2 linked regions of the Homo sapiens genome follow. The protein of the gene in region 1 purifies or fractionates together with the protein of each later gene. This does not show direct contact. Each region holds a gene or a part of one and is shown in the gene's direction. Other genes may lie near its edges.

The links.
Region 2: the proteins of KANSL3 (region 1) and PHF20L1 purify together in Homo sapiens (affinity purification with mass spectrometry; 2 studies listed by BioGRID and IntAct, with this or other methods). This does not show direct contact.

Annotation. Positions count from the first base shown.
Region 1 is NC_000002.12:96,601,807-96,617,847, reverse strand, and holds part of KANSL3 (KAT8 regulatory NSL complex subunit 3), read left to right. Parts: intron 1-2,303; exon of another isoform or gene 2,304-2,356; intron 2,357-4,228; coding exon 4,229-4,360; intron 4,361-4,913; coding exon 4,914-5,030; intron 5,031-5,284; coding exon 5,285-5,386; intron 5,387-5,494; coding exon 5,495-5,566; intron 5,567-6,709; coding exon 6,710-6,784; intron 6,785-6,964; coding exon 6,965-7,122; intron 7,123-8,285; coding exon 8,286-8,349; intron 8,350-8,783; coding exon 8,784-8,984; intron 8,985-9,183; coding exon 9,184-9,340; intron 9,341-10,800; coding exon of another isoform or gene 10,801-10,878; intron 10,879-12,310; coding exon of another isoform or gene 12,311-12,336; coding exon 12,337-12,528; intron 12,529-12,984; coding exon 12,985-13,069; intron 13,070-13,467; coding exon 13,468-13,598; intron 13,599-14,985; coding exon 14,986-15,095; intron 15,096-15,509; coding exon 15,510-15,732; intron 15,733-16,041. UniProt on the Homo sapiens protein: Non-catalytic component of the NSL histone acetyltransferase complex, a multiprotein complex that mediates histone H4 acetylation at 'Lys-5'- and 'Lys-8' (H4K5ac and H4K8ac) at transcription start sites and promotes transcription initiation.
Region 2 is NC_000008.11:132,766,411-132,782,547, forward strand, and holds the start of PHF20L1 (PHD finger protein 20-like protein 1), read left to right. Parts: upstream 1-8,977; 5' UTR 8,978-9,235; intron 9,236-9,528; exon of another isoform or gene 9,529-9,589; intron 9,590-11,381; 5' UTR 11,382-11,418; coding exon 11,419-11,501; intron 11,502-16,137.

The DNA of each region.
Region 1 (16,041 bases):
CGCCCAGCTAATTTTTTTTGTATTTTTAGTAGAGATAGGGTTTCACCATGTCTCGATCTCCTGACCTCGTGATCCGCCCGCCTCGGCCTCCCAAAGTGCTGGGATTACAGGCGTGAGCTGCCGTGCCCTGCCACACCCAGCTAAATTTTTAATTTTTTTGTAGAGACGGTCTTGCTATAGGCTCGTCTTGAATTCCTGGCCTCAAGCAGTCCTCCCATCTTGTCCTCCCAAATTGCTGGGATTACAGGCATAAGCATGATTCAGTTTTTGACACTTTTTTTTTTTTTTTTAATAGTTTTACTTTCTGCTTCACAGGAAGCTGGCTCATCTTGCTGCTGTAAGTTGCCTGGCCAACACGTTCCCTCAGCCACATCCCCAAAACTTGCAGACTCATTGTTTCTTATGTGTTTTTAAGTTAAAGGGTGCCAAGTTTGTTAGAAGACTGGTTTAGTGCTGAAATAAAACTCAGGACTAGATACATTAATGATATTCATGGTAGGAAATTTGACACTAGTTTTTTTGTTTAACTAATACTTATTTTGGGCCCTACGTGTGTCAGGTACTGGGGTGAGCAAAACAAAACTGGTCCCTTCTCTGGTGGAGTGTATTTTCTAGTGAAGAAAGAGACAAATGAAAAGGGAGTCCCAGACTTTCCCCTGTACTGCTCCCCTGTAGTAGAAACCCTGGACCCGGGAGGTGAGTGGTGGGCAGGTAGAGTGTGGGGCCCAGACTGGATCCTGGCAGACAGAGAGTGGTGGCCCAGAAGTATCGTAGGCATCTTCACATATGTTCTCCTCAGCATTCTACCTACGGTAAAAGTGTAACATTGGTGAATACACTGTAGGAGATGAGTGTTGGTAGTGGCCAGGGTCTCAGTTCTCTGGTGACCCTGCTTCACTCACTGTGGCTAGCATAATTTCCCTTTAAGGAGGAATTTGTACTGCTGCCCTATTTAAGTTACTGACTGGACATCTCCTGGGTGCATGTCGGATATTATGAGCATGGCAGACCACTGGGGGGACTCCATAGCATGCATAGTTGGGTGTTTTCCTCCCATGCTGCTGGGCCACGGTGTGGGTTGACTGGAATAGTGGAAGGCTCGCTGGTACACCAGTCAGCAAGGGCCTCAGACTCAAGGCAACATCCTCTCTGGGCTGTGCTCTCCGCAGTGGTTCCTCTGCCATCGGACTCTTATTTTCCCATGACTATATTTAGATTCACAACAAATACTTTGGTTGTTTCCCAAAGGATATAAATGATTATAGGATTGTTTTACTTTTAAAGTGCCTGCTGGATGTGAAAGCGCAGGTGGATGGGATCATGCTCTTCACCCAGCTACTTTCACTATTAGATCCATTATGATAAAGAGGGCAGAGAAGGTATAGACCTTAGCCTTTTAATTGGCTGTTGAGAGTGAATGCAATGCTGGAAGGGCCAGGGAAGCTTGGTCTTCCCAGCTCCAAGTGGAAAAGTCAGTATTGATTTTTTATCCCTTGTTGACAGGAAGCAAGTGTCAAGGCTTTTTGGTTTCAAAGCTATATACTACTGTTAGATAAAGCTTAACCCAGGGTCACATCCTTTGCCTCAAAGTGTTGAGTGGCTCACAGTTCTAGAGTGAGTTACAAAGAACATGAAGATCCTTTGCAGTTTGGTCTTATCCTTTGCGGTTTGGTCCTATCCTTCCTACTGGCTTTTTACATCCTCCTCCTTCCTTACTTGCATCCTTGACTTTTGTCCATCTGTGCCTGGAATAAGCTCTACACATTCTTGCCTCTTGCTGGTGTCTCTGATGGGAAGGCTTTTCTCTCATCTTCTGTTGGAATCCTGCCTGTTCCAAAGAGCCTGTCTCATTTCACATGCTGTATCTTTAGATGAAAATTGCCTCTTAACTTCTTCTCCATTGGGTGGTTTGAATCATAGCAGTTTGGGCTTCTGTTTCTTTCATGGCAGTTATCGGTCTTTCCCTATTCCTGTCCCCCACCATTATTTGTGTGTTTGTCTTCCTTACCTCTTGTAGATTAAATTCCTCTGCAGTACTAGCCTGGTACCTTGTAAAAGCAGTTGCACGAATATTTCTTTCCTGAGTTAAACTGAGAAAGTCTAATGGTTATAATTCTCTAATTTCTCATACAGAAATCCTTTTAGTGTCCCTGTTTTTAAATTAAGAGCAACTTATCTTCTGCTATTTTTGGAGTTTTACAACTTGCATCAAACCGTAGTACTTTTTATTCTCCAATTTTTCAAAACCTTTTTCTTTCTCTGAAAACTGCCTCTAATATTTAAACATTTTTCCTTTCCCCTAGGTCATTTTGACCTTTTGTGGGTAGCATGGAATTCGCAGATATTTCTTCTCAGTGTAAGCATCAACATGTCTGAAACCTATATTTGCACATCTGTAATGTCACATTTCTGGTAGATAGTAAAAAACAGACATGAGATAAAGTACACTGTATATAGTATAGCAGGATATATATTTTTGTACATAATAACAGATTTATTTAGTACACCACAGCTTGAAGGCAGTACTCTAGAAGAAAATGGAGATTTAAAAATATTATAAAATCAACTGATACTCATTGAGGAAATTTAGGGAACATAGAAATCTGTAAAGGAAAAAGTCACCCATAAACTCCATAGAGATCATTATTAACATTTTGTCTTTTTTTTTTTTTTTTTTTTTTTGAGACAGTCTCCCTCTGTTTCCCAGGCTGGAGTGCGGTGGCACACTCTTGGCTCACTGCAACCTCTGCCTCCTGGGTTCAAGCGATTCTCGTGTCTCAGCTTCCTGAGTAGCTGGGACTACAGGTGTGCAGCATATTTTCTTTAAAATATGATTCTATTATATTCATTGTTTAGAAATCTGTTTTATCCCACTTAATGTATCTTTTTTTATTTTTTTAATTTTATTATTATACTTTAAGTTTTAGGGTACATGTGCACAACGTGCAGGTTTGTTACATATGTATACGTGTGCCATGTTGGTGTGCTGCACCCATTAACTCGTCATTTAGCATTAGGGGAGTAGAGATAATTTTTTTCTTTTTTTCTTTCTTTCTTTTTTTTTTTTTTCTTTTTTTTGAGAAGAGTCTCACTCTGTTGCCTAGGCTGGAGTGCAGTGTCATGACCTTGGCTCACCACAACCTCCACCTCCCGGGTTCAGGTGATTCTCGGACCTCAGCTTCCCAAGTAGCTGGGATTACTGGTGTGCGCCACCACACCTGGCTAATTTTTGTATTTTTAGTGGAGACAGGGTTTCACCATGTTGGCCAGGCTTATCTCGAACTCCTGACCTCAAGTGATCTGCCCACCTTGGCTTCTCAAAGTGCTGGGATTACAGGCATGAGTCGCTGAGCCCAGCTTTGAGTAGAGATAATCTTTATATTTTCTATTTTACCTGTAACATTTTAGCAAAATTATTTCTGTGTGTTATTATATATCCTTGTAAATATTTGAAAGCTGGGTGCAGTGGCTGATGCCTTTAATCCCAGCACTTGAGGAGGCTGAGGCGGGTGGATCATTTGAGGTCAGGAGTTCAAGACCATCCTGACCAATATGGTGAAACTCCATCTCTACTAGAAATACAAAAAATTAGCTGGGTATGGTGGTGCACGCCTGTAATCTCAGCTACTTGGGAGGCTGAGAAACAAGAAATCGCTTGAACCCGGGAGGCAGAGGTGGCAGTGAGCCAAGATCAGGCCACTGCACTCTAGCCTGGGCGACAGAGCGAGACTTTGTCTCAATAAATAAATAAATTCTTGTAAATATTCGAAAATAATCTTTAATATCCAATTAGGTAGATAGTTGACTAAACTACTCCCTTACATATGCACATATATATTAAATTGTTTTTACTTTATTATTATTCATAGTTAATTTGTCTCTGTGCATAATTGTCCCCATCCTTTTGTGTGTGTTTTTGTTTCTGATACGTTTTCTTTGGAAAGGTTCTCAGAAGTAGAAACATTTGGAAAAGGGATGGGAATACATTTAAGTCCCTTGCTGCATATCCAGACTGCTTTCCAAAGGATTGTACACATTCACTTTTCATGGTGGGAGCATACTTTTCACCCGCTTATTTATATATATTCTTGATCCTTAGGAGGTTTTCAGAGGCTTAGTTGAAGTCTGTCTATGGCTTATAGTGGGGCTCTGTTCTTCTGCTTGATTGCTGGTGGTGGAAGGTCTCCTGCTTTACACTGGAGTCATCTTTGCTCTTTCTTCTTTGTAGATCCCAACCTTGATTGACCGGATGCTTGTGTCATCCAACACAAAGACTGGGGCTGCAGGAGCTGAGGCCTTGTCTCTCCTACTGAAGAGGCCCTGGGACCCTGCTGTGGGTGTGCTTTCTCATAACAAACCAGTAAGTTGGATGGCTCAGGACTTAACAATGGTACATAAAAATTTTAGACTCAAGCCTTAGAACCTTGGCAGGAGGATAAATGGCTTCTTTAACTATTTATTATTATTATTATTTTTTGAGACAGAATCTTGCTCTGTTACCCAGGCTAGAGTGCAGTGGCACGATCTCAGCTTACTGCAACCTCCACCTCCTGGGTTCAGGCAATTCTCCTGCCTCAGACTCCTGAGGAGCTGAGATTACAGGCATGCACCACCATGCCCAGCTAATTTTCAGTAGTGACAGGATTTCACCATGTTGGCCAGGCTGGTCTCAAACTCCTAATCTCAGGTGATCCACTTGCCTTGGCCTCCCAAAGTGCTGGGATTGCAGGTGTGAGCCAGCATGACTGGCCAGCTTCTTTAACTATTATTAATAATTTATTTTACATAGTGCTTAACATAATTTCACAAGCAAAGGAGCATTGGTTGGGATGAGAAAGGTATTGGGATACTTGGAATTTCATGAAAGGACACTTCTCACTCACTGGTTTTTGGGTGGGATTCTTCCTCTTTAGAGCAAACTCCCTGGCTCTCCGCTGATTCTCATCGCCTCCTCTGGTCCCTCCAGCTCTGTGTTTCCCACTTCACGCCGCCACCGCTTCTGGCAATCTCAGCTGTCCTGCTTGGGCAAGGTATGTGTGGGGGCAAGAGGAACTCCTTCCTGGCAGGGAATATAGTCTTGGAGGATTGAGGAGAAGAATATGTGGGAGGAGGTCAAAATGGGTAACTTGAATGTGGAGCCTCCTCTAACCCTTCTTTCATGTGGAGCCTCCTCTAATCCTTCTTTCATGTGGAATTCCAAGGTTTTGGGTTTAGGTTAGGTTAAACAGAATTGAAAGATTTGAAACTTACCTCTGCTGGTGTGGGGGCTACTTCTTTCCTTCAGGTCATCCCTGTAGCCACCCATCTGCTGAACAATGGCAGTGGGGTAGGAGTTCTACAGTGTCTCGAGCATATGATTGGGGCAGTGAGAAGCAAAGTGCTGGAGGTGAGAATGCCCGTATTTCAGTACATTGTGGCATACCCAGCATTCTGGGGTTGTTCTGCACCTATCTTTGGCCTCCTGTCTTACTGTCTTCTTTCTCTTCCCATGAAGATTCACAGCCATTTCCCACACAAACCCATTATCTTGATTGGCTGGAACACAGGAGCTTTGGTGGCCTGTCATGTAAGTAATTTCTATCTTATTTGGAGGTTGTCCTGGGATGGAATACCACTAATCATAGCTACCATTGAGTCCTTTACTGTGTGTCAGGCTCTGCGCTAGATACTTTACCTATATAATTACATTTTAAACTGTAGAAGACAAATTTTATTAAAACAATTTTTAATTTATTTTGGAAAACTTTAAGCAGAAACAAAAGCAGGTGTAGTATAATAAACCCCCGGATCCTCACCCAGCTTTACCAGTGATCAACTCTTGGCTGGGCTTGTTTCATCTCACCCTGCTCATTTTCTTTCTCCCCTAGATTGTTTTGAAGAAAATCCCAAATATAATAGCATTTTCACATACACACACACACACACACACACACACACACACACATATGGGTATATATCTGTGGAAAAAAAAAAAAGATCCCTTTTTTTCTCTAAACATAAGTACCATACTGTTCTCCCACCTAAAAAACAACAGTAATTGTAGCTGGCAAATATTAATAGCTCTGGAATTTGATGCTGTGTTCATTTCAGTCTTTTTCCAAGACATCAAGGAATCTTTTCGTATTTTACATATATTTGTATGTCTGTCAGTTTGTGTAAGTGTCCCTCATGTCCAAACCCTTAATTTTGCTTCATGCAGTCCAATCAAGTGTGATAGCTATGAGAGGAAGAAGGTCCCCATAGTCCCTGCTCCCAGGGTGTTAGGCCTTAGCAGTTTGCTCCAAGAAATCTAGGCTGTCTGGTAGCTATCCATTAAGTTCAATAGAGAGAATTTTTTTTCACTTAAGGGTTAATGGCAACATTGTGTTCTCTTGACTATATTTACTATTTGTGGAGAAAAATGGAGCAGGAGGGCTCTAGTTGAGGGGGTTGACAGGGTAGGAATACTGAACCTTCTATCCTATGGTTCAGCCACCTGCTGGGGTCCTCTTAGGGCCCCAGTTCTCTAGGTAGTGGCTGCTTATGGAATGACATACCTTGTGTCTTGTGCTCTTACTGCTGCCATTGTGGCAGAAGATGCACCCGGATATTAGGACAGGAGAGGAAGAGGTGAGACTGTCTGGTGGGTCTGGACCACTCCTGGATTCTGGGTAGGCTGAGGTGCCATGAACTCAGTTGACGTTTAGACAAACTGTTCTGTTATTTACAGGTGTCAGTAATGGAGTATGTCACTGCAGTTGTCTGCCTTGGGTTTCCTCTGCTTACTGTGGATGGCCCCAGAGGGGTAAGAATGTGGTAAAGCTGAGTGCTGGGTCATTGGCAGTGGGAGCGCGAGTGTGCATGCCTTGTCCAAGCTGATGCTGAGGCTGACTGCAGTTGCATGGCTGATCCTCCTTAGTGGAGTTTCTGGGTCAGTGCTTTGTGAATATGAAGAAGCCGATTCTAAAACCTATACCTGTTTTAGGATGTAGATGATCCCCTCTTGGATATGAAGACTCCAGTCCTCTTTGTCATTGGTCAGAATTCCCTTCAATGTCACCCTGAAGCCATGGAGGACTTCCGGGAGAAGATTCGAGCTGAGAACAGCTTGGTGGTGGTTGGGGGAGCTGATGACAATCTCAGGTGGGTGGATTCTCCCAGAGCTGCAAGAGAGCTGTGTTACAGTGTTAGAGATAAGCCTGGAAGCTGGCAATGTAACTACAGACCAGTCTGGTTCAGTTAAAAGACAGCATTAGCCGGGCGCGGTGGCTCACGCCTGTAATCCCAGGACTTTGGGAGGCTGAGGCAGGCGGATCACGAGGTCAGGAGATTGAGACCATCCTGGCTAACACGGTGAAACCCCGTCTCTACTAAAAATACAAAAAATTAGCCAGGCCTGGTGTCGGGCGCCTGTAGTCCCAGCTACTCGGGAGGCTGAGGCAGGAGAATGGTGTGAACCCAGAAGGCGGAGCTTGCAGTGAGCCGAGATCCCGCCACTGCACTCCAGCCTGGGTGACAGAGCAAGACTCTGTCTCAAAAAAAAAAAAAAATTAAAAAAAGACAGCATTAAAAAAACCTTTTTTAATATTTGAAATTTCAGATTTATAAAAAGTTATAACACTAGTACAAAACAATTCCTATATACCCTTCACCTGATTTTCTAAATGTTAAACATCTTACATAGCCAAAGTGTAATTCTCAAAATCAAGAAATTAACATCTACATGATACTGTAATTTACAGACTCATGTTTCATCAGTTGTTTCCCTAATGTCATTTTTCTGGTCCAGCATCCAGCCCAGGATCACACTTGGATTTAGTTGCCATGTCTCCTCAGTCTCCTTTAATTTGATAGAGTTCCTCCATCTTTGTCTTTCACGACCTTGAGCTTTTTTTTTTTTTTTTTTTTTTTTTTTTTTGAGGTGGCGCCTGGCTCTGTCGCCTATGCTGGACTGCAGTGGTGCAATCTCAGCTCACTGCAACCTCCGCCTCCTGAGTTCTGGATAGAGTTGATCTATTAAGCTATAGGTATAGGAATTCTGGAGCGGACTGTCCTGGGCACTGTGCTTGGTTTCTTTACATATGTTATTTTGTTTAATCCCCACAACTCCATGAATGGGATGTTATGATTCCCCATTTTGCAGACACGGAAACAGGTTCGGAGAGGTTGCATTACCTGCCTAAGGCTAACATGGCCCTCCTTCTGGGGCTAGAAAATAAACAACCCAGAAAAGAAATACGTTCTTATTTTCATAGGATGCCGTGCAATGTGTAAGAAGTAAACATGTCATCCTTTTTGTTTCTTAGAATAAGCAAAGCAAAGAAGAAATCAGAAGGGTTGACTCAGAGCATGGTGGACAGATGTATTCAGGTAAACAGTTGTTTTGTGTGCTTTTCTCAGCTAGGCTTGCCTTTCTGTAGCCTTTTAGGTTTGGTCTTATTGGTAGTGGTCTCTTTGGCTCTAAGGCCTCCACTGGGGCCTCTGGTAGGTCTCAGTCATAAGCAAAGAAAAGAAAAATGAGAGTGGTGAATTAATGTAAGCAAAGCATCACGGGGGAGAGTGTTGGAAAAGTGGTGGAATGTGACCACCCCAGAGCTCCCCCTGACAGAGGCACTTGCTGGTCTTCTTGAACCACAGTTGCTCAGAAGCCTGGGATTTGCGCCAGACCTTGTTTGAGTGGGGAAGGACTGGCACATGCGGATGCCAGAGCTGAGGGAGAATCTGTTTTAGTTGGAAAGTATATGAGAGGTTCCCATTCTCCAGATGAGGACTAAAAGGCCTTGGTTGGCTCCTCTCTACACTAGGATGAGATTGTGGACTTTCTGACTGGAGTGCTCACTCGTGCTGAGGGTCACATGGGCTCTGAACCTCGGGATCAGGATGCTGAGAAGAAGAAGAAGCCCCGCGATGTGGCCCGCAGAGACTTGGCCTTTGAAGTCCCTGAGCGGGGCAGTCGACCTGCCTCCCCAGCTGCCAAGCTGCCCGCCTCACCCTCAGGCTCAGAGGTAGTGTGAGCAGGGAGGGAGCGCTTTTGCTGGGGAATCAGCACCACAGAGTTGGTTCCTTAATTTCCTGGGGATGCCTCTGTCTTATTAGTGCCATGGGCCTGTGAGTTCCTACAAGGGGAATTCCAGAGGGACATGCTGACTCATGGTCAGATCCTAGTAACATTGTCTCATCTCTTGACCTTCTCACCTTACTCAGGATCTCTCCAGTGTGTCCAGCAGCCCCACCTCCAGTCCCAAGACCAAAGTGACCACAGTGACCTCTGCCCAGAAGTCCAGTCAGATTGGAAGTTCTCAGCTGCTGAAGAGACATGTGCAGCGGACAGAAGCTGTGCTGACCCACAAACAAGCTCAAGGTATAGGCACTTGGCCAGTGGCTCCTCTTGGGTCTGTCTTCTGTAGTTCATGTCACATGGCAGTTGCACAGTATTGATATCTATGGCTTTTTTCAGGGGGATGTGAGAGGCGCCCTTTCTCACATTTCTGTGCAGGCAAAATTCAAAATTAATTATTGAAATGAATGCCAAGGCCTCTGAGTTAGTGGGGCTTTGTGATCACTAGTTATAGCTTTGTCTTGCTGTTCTGGGGAGGCTAGGCTTTATGAACATGTATATTGGCCTAAACTTTTTTCTACCTTGCCAGCCACTCCTCCAGTCGGGGCTCTCCAATCATATGTATTGGGTGATTGATTTTATTAATCAGATTCTAGGGTAACTCACCTGGCATCATGCCCTTTCTTTGTTTGACCCTTGAAGCGTTAAGATTCTCACACTGAGACTTTCAGTGAAGTTTATCAGGGTTCTCTGCATACAGGTTTCAGATGAAGCTGGGAAGTATTCCTATAGTCGAAAGTAAGAGTTTGGTGAGCTGCGAGTGCTATGAAAGGAGCTATAGAAAAGGGAGAGTTCATTGGGTAGGGAAAGAAGAAACAGTGGTTCTGTCCCCCTTCCCCCACATTGATCCAGTTGGGTGGCCTTGAGGTAAGGCCTCTTGGGCATTGGTGTTTAACGATGTGTCCAGGAGCATGTCACCTGAGCTTTTCAGGAATAGGGGTGCCTGGGAAGAGGCAGCAGCCAGAGCTGGCTGTCTGGCAGACAGACGTGGAGGGGATAGGAGGCTCATCTGTTTACTTTCCCTGTGTTTCTTTTAGTGGAGCCAAATGATCAGAACCGAAACCCAGACCTCTTGTGAGTTTGCTTATAAGAGTAGTACTAACAAGGAGTAGAAGTGTGAGTGGATGGGAGGAGTTGAGAAATGAGGCCAGGCCCCAAGGGTCTGCGCGGATGCTCTGCCATGGATCTTCATGAGTGGTGGCCAGAGCCAAGTCCCGTGTGGACAGTGTGTCTTTACACTTCTGAAGAAGACAGAGCTGGTGGTCTGCTGTGCTTCTGCAGAGGGTGATTAGTTGAGAATCTAAGGAGTTTGGAAGGCTGATTGGCGAGCTGGGTTTGAAATGGGGATCTAGGGTGTCATGGGGGAGAGTAGCAGCTTTAGAACCCTGGCTTAGCAGAGCTGATGGGCAAACGGGGAATACTAATAGCGAACATATATGGAGTCCTTGCTGTGTGCCATGCCTTCTTCATGGCACTCGCATTGCTGTAGTTTGTTGAGTTTTGGCATGGCCCCATGAGGCAGATAGTACTATTCAGTTTTAGATGCTTCTACAGACTGACTCCGTGGCAGAGTCAGGTTGCCATGCAGTAATTTCAGAAGGAGCCCCTATTGGCCATTTTCTACAACCTTTTTTCTTATTCCCTCTCTTTTTCTCCCTTCTCTGGCTGGCTGTGATTCTGTAATTCTTTCTGATTCATTCCAGCACAGTTTGCTGCTTTTCTGAAACAAAATATGCTGGTGAGGAAAGCTCTTCCTCCTGGCACCTCCTCCTGTCTCTTTGGTGAGTATTACTCTTTCTTGCCTGCTCGTCCACTACATTCTGCTCCTCAACCCCTTATTTATTTTCCATCTCTGCCTCTCATCTGCCTCAGTTTGGTTTCCTCCTGTTCTTTTCTCTCTCTTTCTTTGTATTCTTTTGTTTTGCTGACCCCTTTTGCTTACTCTGTAGTCTTTGCCCTTTTTCCATTCTTTTGTTTGCTTCTCATGGTGTTTTCTTTTTTGTCTCTTAGTGTGGTTCTTTCTTTCACTACGGTCTTGGCTCTGCTGCTTTTTTGTATGTCTGTGGCATTGCCTGAGTCTCAGTTTCCTTGTGTGTTTTTCTCCCTGCCTCCTGTCCTGTGTTTATCTGGTGGCTACAAGCCTACCAGCCACATATCAGCATAGAACCTGAAACTCCTTTCCCCTACACCCTCCTTCCTACTCTGATTTTAGCCAGTGCATTTGTCCCCTAAGCAATCCTTCTAGCTGGTTATGTCCTGACTGTTGCCTCATGCCAGGACCCCTCCTCCCTCCTCATGTGACTGCTACCTTCCTCCCCACACCAGTCTTTGCTTCCCTGTGCTACAAGAGGACTAGGGTGGACTTCTGGGTTTAAAGAGGAGGGAATCTTTGAGGAAGCTTGAAAGATAACCTAAGAGTCCAAAAAGCTTGGCTGTATACATGATGAGCCTGTTTGATTCAGTGGAAGTGGAAGCCCATGTGTGAACAGATGGCCTTTGTCTGTACTAGTACACATGACCTGGGGACTAGGTTGTGACATGGGCCAGTGTTGCCCTGTTACTTTTGGGTGGGAGCCGTGAGGTTGCCTGGTTGAGGTACTCTCTCTCCTAGTAGCTACTCATAGCCAGCTTTTAGTCCTGGTGACACTCCTCTTCATTGCCTCCATTTGGCAAGTGGATCCTCAACTGTGGGCTCTTAGGGCAGGGTGGGACTCTTGAGAGCCTTTGGAAAACTCTACTTTTTAGAGAGGACTGGATGACCTGCTCCTCCATGAGTTCTCATAGAATGTTTGATGTCTCCAACTGTGTGATGATGTGGGGAGGGCTTCAGACAGGAAGATGATCACATTTTTTGAGTCTGAGAAGGACTGTTTACTCATTCTGTTGAATCCTCTATTTTTGTTGTTGTTGCCATTGGCCTTGGCTAGGCAGGGTCAGGATGTCTTCTGTCTTTTAATTCCTACCAACTCAGGGCCCCTTCTCTTCCGATTCCAGTGCAGGATGAGGGATGAGAAGGGTGCCATCCTCTAAGAAGGGCAAAGTGGGGTCCCCCACGGACAGGGCCTGAGTGAAGTGGTCCTGAAGCATGGGCAGTCTCCTTTGAGGGGTGGCCCTGTACGTAGAGTGGTTATCCTGTGTGTTCTACATTCTACACATGGCTGTGTTGGTGCTGGTATTGACTGAGTGTCTGTTGGGATTTTTTGGATTGTGGAGGATCTCAACTCAGCTCCATGTCTTAGTTCCCATTTCATCAGAACCACCAGAGGAAGGAGAGAAAGAGGATCTTAGGGTTCAGCTGAAGCGACACCATCCCTCGAGTCCCCTTCCTGGCAGTAAGACCTCCAAACGACCGAAGATCAAGGTGTCCCTTATCTCCCAAGGGGACACAGCTGGAGGGCCTTGTGCTCCTTCCCAAGGAAGTGCTCCAGAAGGTGAGTTTCTCTTGGTACGTTAAATGAGAACTGAGCTCTCTCAGGTACACAGCATTGCCCTTTGGTGGCCATTCACCAGCATGTCAGCCTTTGCTTTATTTTGAGAGATGCCCGGAGCAAAGAAGACATGAGTCTGTACATGTGGGTAAAGTTGGCATGAGTCCATCTGAATGAGGACCAGGCAGGCAGAATATGAGAGGAAGCTGTGCCATCGTTCAAAGCATCCTATATTTTGTTCTTTTTTTGTTGGCTTCAATTAAAGGTACAGAATATTTCAGGAAGTTTAGAAAATAGAAGGAAAAAATAACCCCAACTCTCCCTACTCTAGCATAGTTCATCTTTTTTCATTTTCCAGTTTTCGTCCGTAATATCTTGCATTTAGCCTAAGCTGTGGAACCTGGAAACATAGAGGCCAAATAGGACTGACCAGGGGCCTTGGGGTTTTCTGTTTTGAAGCTGCAGGTGGGAAGCCCATCACCATGACACTGGGGCAGGCTTCAGCAGGGGCCAAGGAGCTCACAGGACTTCTCACCACAGCCAAGTGAGTGTTTATTGGACCATCTGTGTCTATTCCTTTTTTCCCTTCCCTCTGTTTCTGGTTTATTTAGTGCTTTGGAAAATGATGGATTCTGGATTCTTGTCAGTTTTGGAAATGTGACTTACTTCTGATTGGGATCTTTGTCTTGCTTTTGAGTCAACCCAGAGTTCACTTTTACTTAAGACTCCAAATCGTCCCCTGGCTTTTGCTATAAGTCCTGTAAGTAAGGACTTTTAGAAGACTAGAGGCCAGGTACAGAAAGTGGGACAAAGAAGCTGAAGGTTTTTGGTGTATGTCTGCTGCTGAAAGCCTTGCTGGGCCCCACTCTGTACCCTGCCAGTGTTGCTAGGGCTTGCTGTCCTGTGACCTTTGGATAACAGAGCTCCTTCCTTTGTCTCCAGGTCCAGTTCTTCTGAAGGTGGAGTCTCAGCCAGCCCAGTCCCTTCAGTGGTCTCCAGCAGCACTGCACCCAGTGCCTTGCACACACTGCAGAGCCGCCTGGTGGCCACATCTCCTGGCAGCTCCCTCCCAGGTATCTTGTGGCCCAGCATTCTCCCCTTCCAACACAGAATTTTTGGTCTGCTGCTTCTGGGTGGTCCTGGGAAAGCATCCCTGGAGCTAAATCCATAGGATGGGCCTCTGGGTCTTAGAGTGATCATAGAGGCTTGACGTGAAGCTGGAATTAGCTTGGGCAGAGGGATTCCTTGGCCTTGAATAAATGCAGTGAGTAAATGTCCTGGTCTGCAAGTGAGTAAATGTTCCAGTCTACAGGTGCTGTATCCTCTACTGTAAGGAGAAATAGCCGATAGGACATATATGTATAGTCAGCCTTTCTTATCCACAGGAGATTGGTTCTAGGACCCTCACCACTACCAAAATCCATGGATGCTCAAGTCCCTTATATGAAATTATGTCATACCGTTGGAATTCTATATCCACAGGTTTCTATCCGTGGTTGTTTGAATCTGCAAATCTGCTGTGAAGCTCACAGATAATTGAGAGCTGACTGTGGTTTTACTTTGCTGTTTTAAGCACATCTGCCTGAATAAAACTGGAAATGGTGCTACACTGGGCATTAGCAAAATGAGACATTTTTCTGTCTGTGCTTGTCTCTCTCTTTGTCCTACCCACTAACCCTACTTTGAAAGGCCTGTTGCCTGAGCCCAGCAGGGCCAAGGCATTGCAGAAACCCTCTCCTGGCCAGGCATGGTGACTCACACCTGTAATCCCAACACTTTGGGAGGCCGAGGTGGGTGGATCACCTGAGGTCAGGAGTTTGAGACCAGCCTGGCCAATATGGTGAAACCCCGTTTCTACTAAAAATACAAAAAATTAGCCGGGTGTGGTGGTGGGCACCTGTAATCCCAGCTGCTTGGTAGGCTGAGGCAGGAGAATCGCTTGAACCCAGGAGGTGGAGGTTGCAGTGAGCTGAGATTGTGCCATTGCGCTCCAGCCTGGGCAACGAGAGCGAAACTCCGTCTCAAAAAAAAATAAAATAAAATAAACCCTTTTCCTTTAAGAGAACCTTTCTTATTGCTTTGAGGCTACTTCCTTACTGCTTTGATTGTGTGAGGCGAAGTGAAAGTTGGATATTTATAATTCTTTTGGCTTAAAAAGTTCTTCCCTGGAAAGAAAGGAACAAACTTGGATTTCTCAAAATGGTCTAAAATGTATGACTGATGGTTTGCAGCAGGTGCAGAGCAAGTCCGGGGCAGTGTCTGGCACAGTACCTTTCCTGTGTGGCATCCATTGCGTGTGTGCCTAGTTGGGGAGAGCTTCCTGCCTTCTCTCTGAGGACGGGTGTCCAAGGGCAAGCACCACTGGTGTTTTAGTTGGTGGTGAGGGTGGATGGATGTGGCTGCTCTCGGGATAGTGCAAGTGATTGAGTCTCTACTGATTCCTGCTATGTCCTCTCTTAGGGGCCACATCAGCCAGCAGCCTCCTCCAAGGCCTCAGCTTCAGCTTGCAGGATATCAGCAGCAAGACCTCTGGCCTTCCAGCAAATCCCTCCCCAGGACCAGCCCCACAGGTGCACATCTGCCATCTGCTGGGCTGGGCAGGTGTAGGGAGGAGGCCTCCTCAGCTTAGTTGGTTTTGGCAGGGAAACTAGGTCTGGAGTCAGTGGATCAAGGACAAACAGCCTTCTAGCTACATAGCAGGGAACTTACAAAAGTTAAGGTCTATCATTTACTGTGTGACCTTGGGCAAGTTTCTTGACCACTCTGTTTTTGTTTCTTTGTCTATAAAATGAGGTAATAATAGTACCTCCCTCATAGAGTTGTTATAAGAATGAAATAATATATGCAAAATGCCTGGAAGAGTACCTTGCATGTAGTAGGCACTCAATACATGTTAGCCTTTAATAATATGCTGTGGGCCCTCCAAGCTCGAATGTTGCTGTTGGGCGACAGCTTCTGATCACCTGGGCTTGTGTGTCCCACAGGCCACCAGTGTGAAGTTGCCCACCCCCATGCAGAGCCTGGGTGCCATCACCACGGGCACCAGCACCATTGTCCGTACCATTCCTGTGGCCACCACTCTCTCCTCCTTGGGTGCCACTCCTGGTGGGAAGCCCACAGCCATCCACCAGCTGCTGACCAATGGGGGCCTCGCTAAGTTGGCAAGCAGCCTCCCTGGCCTGGCTCAGATCTCTAACCAAGCATCAGGTGAGTCTCTCATGAGAACTGTGGGGACTCCCAGATCTGGGATCTTTCCCCCAGGACCTTCCCATCTCATGTGGGCAAGGTATGATGTTGAAACCAGTCCCACAGGGTCCTGGCATTGACCTTTGGATTCAGCTGTGTGGACCCATCCCCCAGAGAGGTTGAGAGAACACAGGCTGTTTCCTGTTGCCTTTCAGATTGACTGATAGGGCATAGATGACCCAGCTGGGGAGGAGGCCAAGGGACTGTGTTATGTGGGGGAGAAGCTCTCCAGGAAAGGAAAGCCTCAGTAGAAGGTGGAGAGTGTGACTC
Region 2 (16,137 bases), on another chromosome or scaffold:
GGGGGAAAGGAAGAACTGGGAATTGTTGTATAATTTACTACAGCCCTCCACATTGGTCACAAATATTTAGATTCCTCCTTTTTACTTTAAAAAAAAATGCTGTATTCAGCTAGGCACGGTGGCTTATGCCTACAATCCCAGCATCTTGGGAGGCCGAGGTAGGCGGATCACTTAAGCTCAGGAGTTCAAGACCAGCTTGGGCAACATGAGGAAACCTTGTCTCTACAAAAAATAGCCAGGTGTAGTGGCTTAAGCCTGTGGTCCCAACTACTCAGGAGGCTGAGGCAGTAGGATCATTTGAGCAAGAGAGGCGGAGGTGGCAGTGAGCCAACATTGCGTACCCTAACCCGGGCAACAGAGCAAGACTCTGTCTAAAAAAAAAAAATAAAAATAAAAAAGATGCTGTTTTCACTTCATCTTTCCAGAGAACACGCCAAAATCTTATTTAATCATGGCAACAGACTTCCAGTCCAGAATCCCATAATAATCTCTACATCAATGTGGTTTCTCTTGATACAAAGACTTCTAAAACATCTTAGCCTGTATGTTCAACATTCAATACCAGAACAGAGATGGAGTAACTTCCATCAAAACTTCTCCTATTTAGCAAAAGAGTAATGGGGCTATTCTGAAACGGAATGATCAGTTTGATCAGTTGTTACAAAAGCCTTGTACCCTGTGAATAGGGAATGTTCCTTGATAGAGCTCTAATTCTGCTCCTCAGGGGTATTAACTCAGGCAACTGTGGCTCTTGTTTCTGCCCTCTGGAAAGTAAAAGTATTCCTTTTCCATTACTCTCCTCGGCCTCCTCTGAAGATTAGAGAATATGCGTTTCTTGGGGGCAGAGCAACCTTCTCAACTTACTTTCTGCTTGTAGAAGTTAGCAAATGGGAAGATAACTTTGAAATTTTTAGTTGTCATAATCTCTTTGATACCAAGCTGGTACCTCTTTGACTGTACATTCTATTCTAAGAACATATCAACAACTTTTCATGCATTTGATTCCAGTCAGCTTCCTGTGTCAATATTCATGCTTATAATTGTTTTGAGACATACCTACCTCTTTGGTTTTTTTTTTTTTTTTAGATAGAGTCTTGCTCTGTTGCCAGGCTGGAGTGCAGTGGCACGATCTCAGCTCACTGCAACCTCTGCTTCCCGGGCTCAAGCAATTCCCCTGCCTCAGCCTCCTGAGTAGCTGGGACTACAGGTGCGCACCACCATGCCCAGCTAATTTTTTGTATTTTAGTAGAGACGGGGTTTCACACCATGTTGGCCAGGATGGTCTCGATCTCCTGACCTCATGATCTGCCCGCCTTGGCCTCCCAAAGTGCTGGGATTACAGGTGTGAGCCACCGCGCCCGGCCTAGCTCTTCGTTTTTGACTGCTAGCAGCTTGAGCTTATTGGACAACCTGTTGCTTAGGCATCTGTCCTGTGTCGGGTGAATAATTCATGGGCATGTCTCTGAAGAACTTTCAAACTCTTTAGCTTTATGAGAAAAAGATTATGTTGGCGGTATGAGTTGTGATGACATTGCGAGATCACAATGCCATTAAGCAATTATGTTACTTATACGTAATATGGGGGTAGGGATGGGGATTACATATACTAGTATTTAGAGAATATGACAATAATTAAATTATAAGTGATGTACTAAGAAAGGACACAGAAATCAGAAAAGTGGCCAAACAGGCTAGATTTGATTTATTTAAACTGACTCACCTCAATTTCCTTGTAATAACACTGGAATAGTTCATGTCCAGGTAGTGATAGAGAATGAGATTTTGGATGCTTTGTCCTGCTTTTTAGAATCTACAATTTCCACATCGTTAAATTCATTGTAGTACTTTCATTATTTGCCTTTAGATTTGATTTTCTTATACTTGGTGTTCTCAAATTTCCTTTGGTCACAAATATTTACATTCCTCTCTTTTACTTTAAAAAATGTTGTGTTCAGCAGGGCACGGTGGCTTACGTCTGTAATCCCAGCACTTTGGGAGGCTGAGGCAGGCAGATCATTTGCTGCTAATGTGTCTTTTTAGGATTTATAGGATATTTCCCGCAACTAGAATTCTGTCCCTCAAAAATGCTATATGTATATCCCTACTGTTTGCTCAGGGTTCATTTTCAATTGTAGCATTTTTTGAAGACAACATAGTTATAAAAAAAAAATAGGAGAGAAAAGAAGGAAAACCAAAGGGTGTTTCTCCTCATTCTGGTGAAACTGGCTCTGTTGAATGTTTTGCAAAATCCAAAAGAGGAAGTAATCCGATACTTGACCACAAGGGTGTGTTGCCTCAATACTTTGACTAAGGCAAACCACGAGCTGTGCAATGCTTGTGCTGACAAATTATCTGCCCCTTCCCTGCTCCCTCTCCCTCCTGCAGAAGGGGAATTATTTCATTTGAATGTCCACAATTACCTTGGAGATAGTGTTATTGCTTTCTGGTCCTGGCCAAGAGGCCAGACATTTAGACAAATTGTGAGTGACCAGTTAGAGCCCAAATGCTGACCCTGCACATTCTTCCACACTAACACTTACAATGTATTGAAGTTATCTGTTTGCATGTTTGTCTACATGTCTACATTGTTAAATGTCTTAACAATGATCAGGAATTAAGCTTATCCCTTATGCTCCCTGAAACTAGTGCTGTGTGCTTGGCACACCACAGATGTTCAATAAACGCATGTGGAAAAGAAATGGAAGTAGAATATTTTCATTTGTCAGTTCTTGAATTGAAACTATAAAGAAGTGTAAGGCATTAATAATTATAAAGTCTGCATAGAACTCTTATTTGAAGCTTACTCATCCTTCAAAGCATATTTTGAATGTTTCTTCTTCTATGCTGTCTTTCTTGATTTGTCGAGTCAGAATGACCATATTCCAATAGTATCTTTATTTCAAAATGATTTATATTTAGCTTCATATTGTGTTTAGTTGTTTCTGTATCCATATCTGCATCATGACAAGTCAACTTTGAATGGGTATCTAATTTTATTTTTCTTCCTGTTCCCTTACTCTACATCACCCAGTCTCTAGCATTAGGTAAGAATTCAAAAAGAGTTTGTTGAGTGCTGTGAACTGACTGTGTGTGTCTCCCTGTCCCCTAAATTAATATACTGAAGCCCTAATCCCCAATGCAATGGTACTTGGAAGTGGGGCCTTTCGTAAGTAACTATGTAATGAAGGTTGAGCCTTCATGAATGAGATTAGTCCCTTAGAAGAAACATGAGAGAGATGATCTCTGTCTGTCATGTGAGGACACAGTGAGAAGGCAGCCAACTGCAAACCAGGAAGAATCCCAGGCACCAAATCAATTGGCACCTTGATCTTGGACTTCCCAGCCTCTAGAACTGTTAGGAATAAATTTCTTTTGTTTAAGCTACCCAGTCTCTGGTATTTTTTAAATAGCAGCACAAACTAAGACATTAAGTGATTAAACAAATAAATTAATGATGAATGAATGCATGCAAATAAATGAATATTGCATGCATGCATGTATGTTGTCTGCCATATTTCAGGATGCCACTAAATTGCTGCTAGCTCTGTTCTCAACGAAAAGAATGATCACTAAGAGAGTAAAAGTATTCACCATTTGGTGACTGTCAATTTGTATAGCTGCTGTGTTCTGTTGCTCACCCTCTCCTGCTGCAGTTTTAACAATCCACGGAAATGGGGATTGTACGTTGTAGAGACTATCTCTAAAATCAAACACCTACAGATTAGGAATGTGAATGTTAGGTCAATCTCTCACTAGATTTGTCTCTCATTTGGCTTGGTTTTCTAACTTTGCAAGCTAGGAAGAGAATTCTCAGCTTTGTTGAATGGCTGTAAATTGTAATTTGGAGTTACAGTTGTGTTGAATATTAGTTATTTTGTTGTCCAAATTCCAGTCTCTTTCTTTTAAGTAACAGCACTCGAATTTTGCATTAAAGAACCCACTCATTCCCATCGCTCAGTCCACGAGGTTTGGACCAGTCTTCACGCTTACCTGCCTGATAGGAATAGGAACCCAGTTTAAGCCGAATCAGTACAAGTCATCCCCATGGCCACCATACTTGGTTCAGATTTAGGCACCTAACTTTATCTCAGCCAGTGAGAGAAAGACTCCTAGTATTTGTTTTTACGGTCGCCAGGATGCTGTAATGTCTTAAGCTGTTGGGGATCCCCAGAATCAAGCTAAACCTTAAGAAGTAGAGTGAAAGATGTTATAATTTTTCACTGAATCAAACTCACACAGAAGGCAGACTTATTCCTTATCTTCTATTAACTCCCCAAACTGAAAAATTCCCTTTTTGCTTAAGCCTGTTTTCATAAAATTTTCTGTTACATGCGACAAAAAGAATCCTCACACACTGCGGGTCTGAATATTTCATGTACGTATGAATTGTTTAGGGTAGCTTGCTAAAATGCAGATTTCCAGTCCCCAAACCTAAGATATAAATCAGGGCCCAGGAACTTGAATTTTATCAAACAGTGTTGCATTTTAACAGACCATCTTGTTAAAACAGTGCCCCTGAGCCATATGCACATCTCCATAATGCAGATAATTGGCAGACCAAAGCTTGAGAAATACTGATATAGTTAATGCAAGAGACACTAGTTAACAATGATAAAAATCAGGAGAGGTGCAAAGTATCACATAGCAGCAGGAAGCAGAGACCATCCTTTGTCCTAAATCAGAAATGTGAAAATCCTTTGCAGTATCACGAGTGGATTCCATATTCAATGTACTTCTATTTATAAAATCTTTACTAATTTCTCATGATTATTTCTTCCTGCTTTATGTGTCATGACCAGATATCTCCGTTTGTCTGGAACTGTCCAGGATCCACCTGTCATTCTGGTATAATTATTAATAGCCCTTCCTTCCATTCTCAAAAGTGTTCAGGGTTGGATGATAAATTTTCTGTTCACTCTCTTGCTTCATGGTAATCTGCACACACACAAAAGAGTTCTTTGTCTCTCTTGCTGCATTTGCTGAAATAGACATACATATTTTTTCTATTTTATGACCCTTAGTAGCAGAGACTTTGATATCTTAGAATCATTATTGCCAAGCCTAAAAGTTTTAAAAATCTCAGAGATCCATGTGGCTCTGAGTAACATGTAAACTGAGTAACACATAAACTTACATATATACATATATATCAAAGTAATATATATTACTTCAATATTATGTACTTTGTATTTATAATATATATGTATTATTATTTACTTTAATAACATCATATTTCTTTATTTTATTTGTATATATAAGTATGTTTAAAGTAATCTGGAACACCCTATCATCCTTAGAGTTGGCTCATTCTAAGAAAGTGGAATATAAACCTACGAATCACAGTGAGGAATACATTAGAGAGGTGAAAAAAATGCTGCGGGAACACTGGGAGAGATGACATCTCTGCCAATTCATACATGGCCTAGAGCTCCTATTGCCAGGGATTAATTCTGGAATAACTATAATTTCTGTTCAGTTGATAAAGGGATATGGTGACAGAGGAAAGATAAGTGAGCTCTTTGGCAGGTGAGGAAAATGATGTCAGTGCTATTTTCAAAGATTTTTATGCACATGGAATGAAGAGATTTGACAGAGGCTATCACAGTAGTTTACGTTTCTGCTAAACTAACCTTAAAAAAAACTTGAACTGCTTTGATTTTCTTTACTAATGCTAATTGTAAATATTAAGTAAACACACAAAAAATAGCTATCTTGTGTTTTATTTGTAATCAAGGAGTATCTGGTATTTAGTAGTAACTTTTTTTCCTACCTTAAAATAGGTATACATTTGTTAAATATTCCAGGAGACATTATGGTTCCATATTCATATTTTTAATGTTGGAGGAATTTAGTTCAGTGATTTCTGCCTAACAACTGTTGTTTCAAGATAATTTGCTCACTGCTTGTTTGGTTCTGCTCAAACACAGCTGTAAGTTCTTTCTTTCTATATTTGGAGATGGAGTGACTGATGGCTGGGCATCAACCATCTGGAACAGGGTGTGCTGGGTGGAAGAGAGGAGAAGGGACAGATCAATGCACGGCTTCACTACATGGCCAGGGAGTCAGTACTAGAATTTTGTATATCCTGTATCCCTACTCTGATCCTGACCTTTGACTCTATGTGGTTAAAAGAGGAAATGACATCCTACCTGAATTTTTTGTCAGTTTTATCAGGCTTAGTGCCTTCCTTTTAGAGTCAATATTATATTCACACCCTCTCCACTTCCCAAAATTAACTTCATAAATAACATAACCAAGCTATACATATATACTTAAAAATCAATATGACTATGATAATATAAAAAATTTATGAAAATAATTCATAAAAATCATATATATTTCAATACTTAACATTCATCCATGTATCACAGAAATATATAATGAAGTAGTGAGGTGCTTGTATCTAAATTTAGATTTCCCTAAATGTAACAGCTACGCAACTAGACTGACACAGGTGCATTCTATCAGTGCCTCAAATACTATGAGTAATTAGCCGTTGGTGGCATGATATTTTAAAATGAGATAGACTCTTGATAATGTTCAGAAAAAAGGTCAGTGTTTCCTTACATTACACAGTTGCTTCATTCCTGTAAAATTTAATGTATATTAAAACCTTCCAAAAATACTTATATGTGAAATGCAGTTCTAGGCAGGGACAATTATAAACAGGTTTTTCACCTACATGAATGTCTGGAAGGACATCTAGAAGTCATGCATGACCTGGGGCAATTCTTCAAGGTATGGAACTGCACTGTGCATTTCAGGATATCTAGCAGCCCTGGTCCCTTCCCACTAAATAGTAGCAGTGCCCTACCCCAATCCTGAGACAATAAAATACCATCCTCCATTTCCAAAGTGCCCTCTAGGGGACGGTATTAACTCCACAGAGGATTACTAAGCCTATACAATTCACTGAAGCTAGGGATCATTTACATAAGACCTTATTTTATTTTTTTCTTTCAAGTGTCATTATTGGAAGACCCATTGTCAAGTTCCAATTAAAATGGAACAATCATCTTTCCAGGGTGGATTCTCAACAAATAGTTGGGAGAATGGACAGAATCTGTTGTTCTTTATGTATGTATTTTATTTAAATTGCAAATAACCTCAAGTTTTTAGTGGTGTATAATAATAGATATTTATTTTTTCTCAGTCACTAGCTTGTGATTCAGCAGGGGTTCTGCCAGAGTTCAGAAAGATTTAACTCCAGGCTGACCATCAGAAACTTGAATACTGGTACTGCCACAGATGTGGGAGAAAAGTTTCCTTATTTTGAACATCATTAGCAACTTCTGATACAAAGTCCTTGGTAAAAGAGTTTTACTTGAGGCTAGAACTTTAGCTGCAAGGGAGACTGGAAACATGAGTTTCTGATATTTTCATCTTATTTAGTGGGAGGTTGATTCTGCATCCAAGATTCATAAGGTGGATGTATCATTTAGTTTGGGTAGGATTATGCCATGTAACAAACAATCCAGCACCCAAATCTCCATAGTTAAAATAATAAATATTTATTTTTTTCCTTATACAACACAGTAGTTGTAGATTATCAGTGAGGCCTTGGTTCATCATAATCTGTCTAGAACCTGGATGGTAGAGCAGCTATCATCTCAAGCAGTGCTTTACACTGTGCCAGAGACAGAAACTTTGGTGAGCTGGCATTAAAAATTACCAACTGGCCATGACAAATCTCACTTCTAATTACATTTTATCAGCCAAAGCAAATCAAATAGCCATACATAATTCTAAGGAGGGTGGAAAGTATAATCCTGTCATGTCCTAAGGAAGATGCTACAAGTATTTGGTGTTCTGAACTAATGCAACCATGATGAGAAATTTCTCAAACATGGAAAGAGAGTTGAGATGCTGGGCAACCAAAAAACAAGATAACAAATATCCACTAGAGACTGTCTTATTTATATCTTTTCTATAACAAATATCCACTAGAGACTGTCTTATTTATATCTTTTCTATGTATCACCATGCTCAGTCTAGCTCAGTAGCTATTAGTGACTTAGTAGATGCTGAATGAATGTTTGTTGAATAAAAAAAGAATGATTGTTTAATTTACCAAATCTTACTATAACTGAAGCTTAAAGAGAGTTACTTTGCTATTTTAACTCCACACTATGAAGCAAGATAAATATAAGTGACATTTGTATGCAACGTTGCACTTGAAAACCAGAGTGGTACAGTGGAAACCAAGAGAAAAAAGATGTTTCATTTCAATATTATTTTCAATGTGTTCACTTATTGGTTTCTCCCCACAGCAAGGATACTGTCTCCTGTGCTTAGTAAAGTTTGGGAGGGTAGGTATTCGATAAAAGCAGTTCTGCTATCATTAGCTGTGTAGTCTTGGGGAAGTGATATCAATGTAGCCATAGGTTAAGGTTATTCAGCTGTGCCTGAGCACGCGCGTACACACATCTTAGTAATATTCGTCTTTGTATTGTAAAGATCTCCAAGACTGGAAAGCAATACAATTGTAATACAGTTGTACAGTTGTGATTGTCATGTGACATATTTACAGCCTAGTGTCTATCACAAAGCATCCATTCAAGGGAGGTTTATTGATTTTGTAGTAGTAACCATGCTCTATTCTTGATGTGGAGTGGGATGGATATCTAAGAAAGCATGTAATGCATTTGAAAAAGTTTGCCAAGGGTCCTGGGTAAAGGGGTTTTGGTGACGTGGTTCCCAACGAATCAAGAATAATAAACAATGCCCTTCGTCCTCAAATCTCAAAGGTCAAATACTTCACAACTACCAATAGGCACCAAGAGCTCGCGTTCTTTCCTCCAGTAACCAGAGCCCCGCCCGCTAGCGGTCCGTCAACGACCGCAAAGCCCCGCCTCCTACGGCGGCCCGCCAATCGGCTGCGCGGCCCGGGCCCAACCCTCGTGAGTCACGTGACAAGGCCAGGCCCGCTTCCGGCACGTCGCGGGCGGCTGACGTCGCCGGGGCCCGGCGTCGCGTCAGGGCTGGCCGGCGGCGGAGGCGGCGGCGGCGGCGGCGATGGCAGCGGACCCTGAGCGAGCTTGAGGGCTCGGACCCAGCTCCCTCCCGCGAAACCTTGGGCGGATCCGGCGCTGCGGCCCCAGCTCGCTCCGCTCCTGCTCCCTCCCCGGCCGCTGCCTGGGCGGAGGCAGAGGCAGAGGCCCGGGCTGGCCGCCCTGCTCGTGCCCCAGCTCGGCCCCGGACGGCCCGGCTGCTGTGCAGAGAGGAGGCCGAGTCGGTAAGAGGCGGCGGCGGCTGAGCCGGCAGGCCGCCTGGCCCCCGCCGGGCCGCCCGGGACGCCCCCATTCTGGTGTCTCTCTTTCCGGCCCGCTCCCCTCCCGCCTCCCTCCCCGTAACTCGCCGGCCCTATTGTCTGGGCGCCGCAGCTCCCTCTTCCCCTCCCTTCCTTACCCCCCTGCGGAGGGCCGGATGGCTGTCAAACCTGGAGGCTTCTCCAGCTCCCTGCCAGCCCTGTCAGCCTTTCCTGCCTGTCTCGTGCCACCCCCTCTCTGTCTGGCCTCACCTCCTCACCTTTTTTGGCCTGGCGGTCATTCTCTGACCATTGCTTTACATTGTCGGTCTCTATGTCTTCTTGCTCATTTCTTCTTCCCTCTAACTTGTCATCTCCGAAAACTTCCACTGTCCTATTTCTTGCCATTCTTTGCTCCTTTCCTTACTGTTTTTACTCCTCTCCGTGCTTTCTGCCTTGTTTTTGCTTCAAGTTTTACTCCCAGTAGACTGTCTTACTTTATGAAAGTTCCTTAATTCAAATCCCTCTTCATCCTTCCCTCTTCGAACCTAAGACAAAGGAAAATCTTGTTTTTTTTCTGGTACTTCATCCCTAAGTGTCACTGGGGGATTATACTCATTCAATCCATCACTTAATTATGGGCTCTAAGTTTGATTCTAGATGTTAGTGTACCTTGTGAACTATCCCTTACTGAATTCTTCCTGTGACAGACAGCAGAAAAGGTTGATTCGATTTCTACACAAACATTTAAGTAACTGCCTTACGTGTTGCGCACTGACAAGACCTCTATTAAAAATATTCATACATTTGTTCTTTTGCACCAGCTACACCCTGGGCAAGCTCCCTGTTAACTTTTTAATGCTCTAATATTTGCTTATACCATAGCAGGAGGATACCCACTCTCCCCCTCCAACCATGGGTATTTGAGTTCGCATATTTTCATGGCCAGTATTGATGCTATTTTTTCCCTTACCTATCAGACTCTTTCAAAGAGAAAAGAGGGAGCAGTTGGAATTTTATGTTTGTTGTTCTATTTTGTCTATTATGAATTGTGACAAAACCATTATAAAAGATGACAAGTGTGTGTGTTTCTTTTTTTCTTTTTAAACTGTAGGGAACATAGTCATTAGTGATCTCAAATACCGAAAGACATTTTACGGATCTCTCCTCGCCCCTGATAACAATCAATTTACATTCTTAATTATGAGTTATGTTTTGATTAGGTTATCTCAAAATGTATTCATATTCCTCACATACCCATTAGTGAAAAAGAGGCCACCTCAAGTGTGCTCGGTGGCCACTGTGGCCCAAAATATAGTACTTTGCATGTGAATGACCTAGGGATACATAGGTACTCCTTTGCAGTTTTTGTTCTAGCATTACAACCACTTTTATTATCAATGTGGACACTGTCTAAATTGAAATATAGTAGAAATACTCAGTTAACAAAAGCATGTTATTATTGCTTGTTGAATGTAAAGTATAAGAAAGCAGTCTCTTTTGTAATACTGTATGTTAAATTAAAATTATTGAATTATGTGCTACCAAGGTGGGAGATCATGGGTAATGAAAAATCCTAATCCCAAGAGGAATTAGTGGTATCTTCACTGGCAGAGGAGTGTGCCTACTGTTTCCTCCATCTTTGTGTGCTGTAGGGCCTTATCTAGTGTTTTGTATTATGAGGCACTCAACAAATATTTGTTGAAATTAAAAATTGATTTTGTTCTCAAGAATTTCAGTAGTCCTATTCCAGAACACTCAGCTGTCTTAATTTTTCAAAGGCAGGAAAGCATTTTCAGCTCTCCCCGTGGAGAATTTTCTTGGGTATCTGGAAGCTCAAATGTAAAGCATTTTTAGCTATTAACAATTTTTAACAGTCCATTTACTCATTCTTTTTAGATAGTTTTCTTTGTTCTTTTTCTTAAATCATTATCAAGATTGCCTGCAGATTGCACAGAACTTTATATAGAGATGTTGGTAATACTCCTTCAAATTTCTTAACAATTTGGCAAGTATTTCATATTCTCATGTATTGTTTTAGAAATTCTGTTTAATTTTAATTTGACCTGTTCCCTTATACTCTACTTCCTATGCATTTTCTGCATTGGAATCTAACTTTTTTCTTTCTCTTGAGGTAGTGAAAAGAGAATACTGAAGAATAGGATCTCAAGATGAGTAAAAAGCCCCCAAATCGCCCTGGAATCACTTTTGAGATTGGTGCTCGTTTGGAGGCACTGGACTACTTACAAAAATGGTATGGAAAATATAGAACTTTCACCTAAATATCACAATATCTGTAGCCTTACATATGTTAATTAAAACAGTAAATTCCACTGATGGTAGCAGAAACATCAGTGTATTCACATTTCGATTACACATATATGTTGTTTTTTAGTTTTCCTACTCTTTAGGCTTTTTAGGTTTAGCATTTAAAAACTATTTTTAGTCAACTGACTAAATTATTTAGAACAATCATTTTTGGTGTTTGAGAAATGAAAATAATTGTCTAGAGTATGCGGTTTATGTATACCTCATGTATACCTCACATGAGCTGTATTGGTGGAAGTAGAGAGAGGAGTAATCCAGAGAACCAACTTCTCATGTTTTGGATAAATTTTGATTTAAATTGGTATTTTTGGTCTGTCAGTGGTAGTCTTTCAAACTACAGAGTATATTAATGGTTAGCATAGCATTTTTTCATAGTGAACACTTTCAAAAACATCTCCACTATTCATTATCTCACCTAAAACCAAAATCACACTTAACCTCCTATTTTCCCTGGTGGGCCTTAACCTAAAGGCAGGTTGTTACTGTCTCCAGTGCAAAATAGGCTGTCCTTTCAGAACTTGTGTGTCTCCCCCTATTCTGGCCATTGTGGTAAGTGGTAAATTTAAACACCTCCCAACATAGCCTTTATACAGTGGTTAGGAAAAGTTGATGAATTGGTATAAAACTACTATCTGGAAAGGAGAGAAGGGGAAGCTACATGCAGGGGTCCCTGGGCCAGAGTAGGAATGAGGAGGATTCTCCTTTCTCCTAAGGAGCGTATTCCTCATTTGGGTTAACTGGCCCCTCATTCTGCTGTCTTGGCAGATGTCTTTTGTTGCCATTTGCAGGCTCCTAACCTGAGAGGGGCATTAGAGGGGTTCCGCTTCTGGGAGGGATGCTGCCTTTGCTCCTCCTGAAGCCCGTTTATTTTGATGCGAGTTCTTGTTTAGCAGCTCTTGGACTTTCCCAGACTTTTTGACATTTTCTCTGATTTAAAACCATACTGGGCATTTTGTAGATTTACTTTTGATTGATTTGTATTAAGTCAACTTCCCGAGTTGGCAATGGCAGGCAGAGAAATCTTGTTTAGTCATAATATTTGACTGTATAGACCAGGCTGGGGTTTCTCTCTTTTAACATCTGGCGTTAGAGCTTGGCACATATCTCTGACCCCAGCTTAATGACCTCTTGTTTTGAGCTCCACTTTAGGACAGTTTGAAGCTACAATTTGAGATGGGGAGGTTAATCGATACTGTCACTAGGTGAAGAATGTACATGGTAATTCTTAGGAGGGGTTTGGGAAGTACCTGGGAACTAGGCAGTAGCATCTCTCCTAGTGACGATCAAAATGTCTCCAGACATTGCCAAATGACAACTGGAATGAGGGTGGGTGGCGGTAAAAATGATTGAGAAACTCAGCATTAGACCATGCAACAGAAAATGCCAGTTGAGGCAGCACTTGTCTATCTTGGTTCTCATTTGACCAAGAGAAGCTTTTTACTCCAAAGGCATACTACTGAATGTCTGTGTGATACAAGGGTATAAGAAATAATACTTGTTACTTCTTTGATATTACTCTTAAGTGATTTATTTATTTTTTAAGTTACTGACTTTGTGACTTATTTAATTCATATTAATATATTAGGCTTCCCAACTGACGGTGTTGCAGTTGAGCTAGCTTCCAGTTTTGGAGAAACACATAGTTGATTAGTTCTGTCAGTAATTTTCAGGGATATTAATATAACTTTGATATTAGTGAGAAATTTTCTTTCAGTAGTAAAATGTTTTCTAACTTAGGAGCTGTTAAATTTATGATCCAGTAGTTCAAAAGACTACAAAAAAGAACTTTTAAAACCATGCTTGAATGTACTTTTAGAGTATTCTGTGTTTTTAGAATACTTGGAATTTCAGAGAACAAATGAAAGTTGTATCTTCTTGCCACAAAATTCATATGTGCTTATTTGAGCGGTGTCATGCAAATGTACTCACTGATGAAGTTTAGATTTAATTTTAATGACCCTGGTAATAATAGTTCTCTTTAATGGAAATAAGCATTAGCCAGGATAATCACATATTATCACTGAAACTTGTTATCAGTTTTATTTTTATAAGCTGATTTATATAAAGATTTTGGCACTCTGTTTCAGGTGGCTCCTTATTTAAAAAAGGATTAAGAATATTGTATATATGTATTCTAGGTAATTTACAAAAATAATTTTCTTATGGTAATTTTGCTTATTAATGTCAGTAGTTTCAAGAACTAGTTAGGCTTAGGTGCCCCTTAAATTTAGTATTAGGTGGTGTGCTCTTGGACCAACTATTTAATTACTAAGATGTATTGAATTTTATATGGGACACAAAAGTTCTGAGATTAGTGCTCTTAACATTTTATTTATAAATAGGATAATAAACTTAATTCTTCATATTATTCCATTTGTAAATGACCATTTTACATTTCATGGAAATTCTGTAAATTTTTGCATTAATATTAAGTAAAATTATAGAATTATTTGACAAGAAACTGACATTCTTGTGAGAAGCAAAATATTATAGTTAATCATTGAAAATATACAGAAATTTCTTTTCTCCCTCTTCTCCCACTCTTCTCTTTCCCTTCTTTCATATTCTATTTTTTGCATCCATATTGAATGCTTAGTCTTCCAAATTTATTCAATTCTCTTTGAAAAGTATTGAGTCATCTTTGAGATAAATGTAGTTTGAACTATTATGGGCATTGGATAGGGAGGAGCAGGAATGCAAATCTTGCTTACTGTCTCTATACTCAAAACATTTACAATAAGCAGTATATTACTGAGAAACTAACTTATCACATGTTGATAAATCACCTTTTGAAGAGAAGTGCAAAAGGAAAGTGGTGCTAGTGAAGAACCCAAAATGCCTATTAAAGGTTTTTCTTGCTTTTTTTTTTTTTTTTTTGAGACAGAGTCTTTTCTGTTTCTCAGGCTGGGAGTGCAGTGGCGTGATCTTGGCTCACTAAAACCTCTACCTCCTGGGCTCAAGCTATCCTGCCACCTCAGCCTCTTGAATAGCTGGAACTACAGGTGTGCACCACAAGTCTGGGCTAATTTAAAAAAAAATTTTTTTTGTAGAGATGAAGTGTCACTGTATTGCCCAGGCTGGTCTGGAATTCCTGGCCTCAAATGATCCTCCCACCTCAGCCTCCCAAAGTGTACTCCTGGCTGGTTTCTCATATATAAAAAAGGAAAATAGTTTCTGGTATGTGTCTAGACATAAAAGGATAAACTCTAAATTTAGTAGGTGGAAATAATCTGAAGTTAAGCTCTCACTTTTAGCTTTGGGGTAGATTTGATTTAACAGGAAGACTCAATCTGTGTTTCTCAGGAAAAGTATGTTATTATTGCTTGAATAAACCATATCGTATAATTCTTACAGATCAGAAAGATACCTTATCTTTGAAAATGCATTGTACCTTTTTAAGTAGTGATTTATTTATTTTTATTTTATCTTATTTTATTTATTTTTTTGAGACAGAGTCTTGCTCTTTCGCCAGTCTGGAATTCAGTGGCGCAATCTTGGCTCACTGCAACCTCCGCTCGCTGCAACCTCCGCCTCTCAGGTTCAAGTGATTCCCCTGCCTCAGCCTCCCGAGTAGCTGGGACTACAGGCGCACGCCACCATGCCCAGCTAATTTTTTTTTGTATTTTTAGTAGAGATGGGGTTTCGCCATGTTGTCTGGGATAGTCTCCATCTCTTGACCTTGTGATGTGCCTGCCTCAGTCCCCCACAGTGCTGGGATTACAGGCGTGAGCCACTGCGCCAGGCCTAAAGTAGTGATTTATTTTTATTTTCAAAGTAACTTTATAGCTACATAAGAACACTCATTGGTGGTTTATTTATCAGTACTAATGGACACAGGCCCTGAGAAGCCATCAAGAGGTCAGTCATCTTAGTCCCAGTATTTGCTTTTTGATAATTGGATCTCTCCTACACTGACCAAACATAACTCCTGAGTAGTGTGGGCTGTTTTAATTTTTAAAAATATTATAGCTTTACAATATTTTAAAAACATTTTCTTTTAACTTTTTCAATCATCTGCATAAAGACTTTGACGTGCTAATGTTTACAGCTAGCACAGTCAACTATTTTTTATCTTATTTTCATGTTTTTCACCACAAACTCTGTGCATCCAAACCTTGATATTCAGTTTTATAATCTCTGGAAGGTAGTAACATCATAAGAATAAAAATGAGTATAGGTGTGTTGATACAGAAGTATATTTGGGGAAGGAGAAAGTTGAGAGTTGAAGTTATATTGGAGACACTGTAAGCGGGTGGGTTTAAATTCAGACTGTTACTTATTAATCCTGTAAATATGGGTAAGTCCTTTAACTTGGTTTTCTTAGCAGTAAAATGGAAGCAGTATTACTGGCTTTTATTTAGAGGTTGGTTTTTAAGGTTCAAATAAAATTATGTATTGCTTTAAGTTCTACAGATGGGTACATAATCATAAAGCATTGAGGTAAATGCAAGGGGAGAGGGAGAATAGAAAAGTAAATCTTTGGGGATCTGAAGAGTTAAGTGATTGAGTTTTTAAAGGTAGCTTTAGTTGACAGGAGAGTGGCTTGGAATCATAGAAGGCAA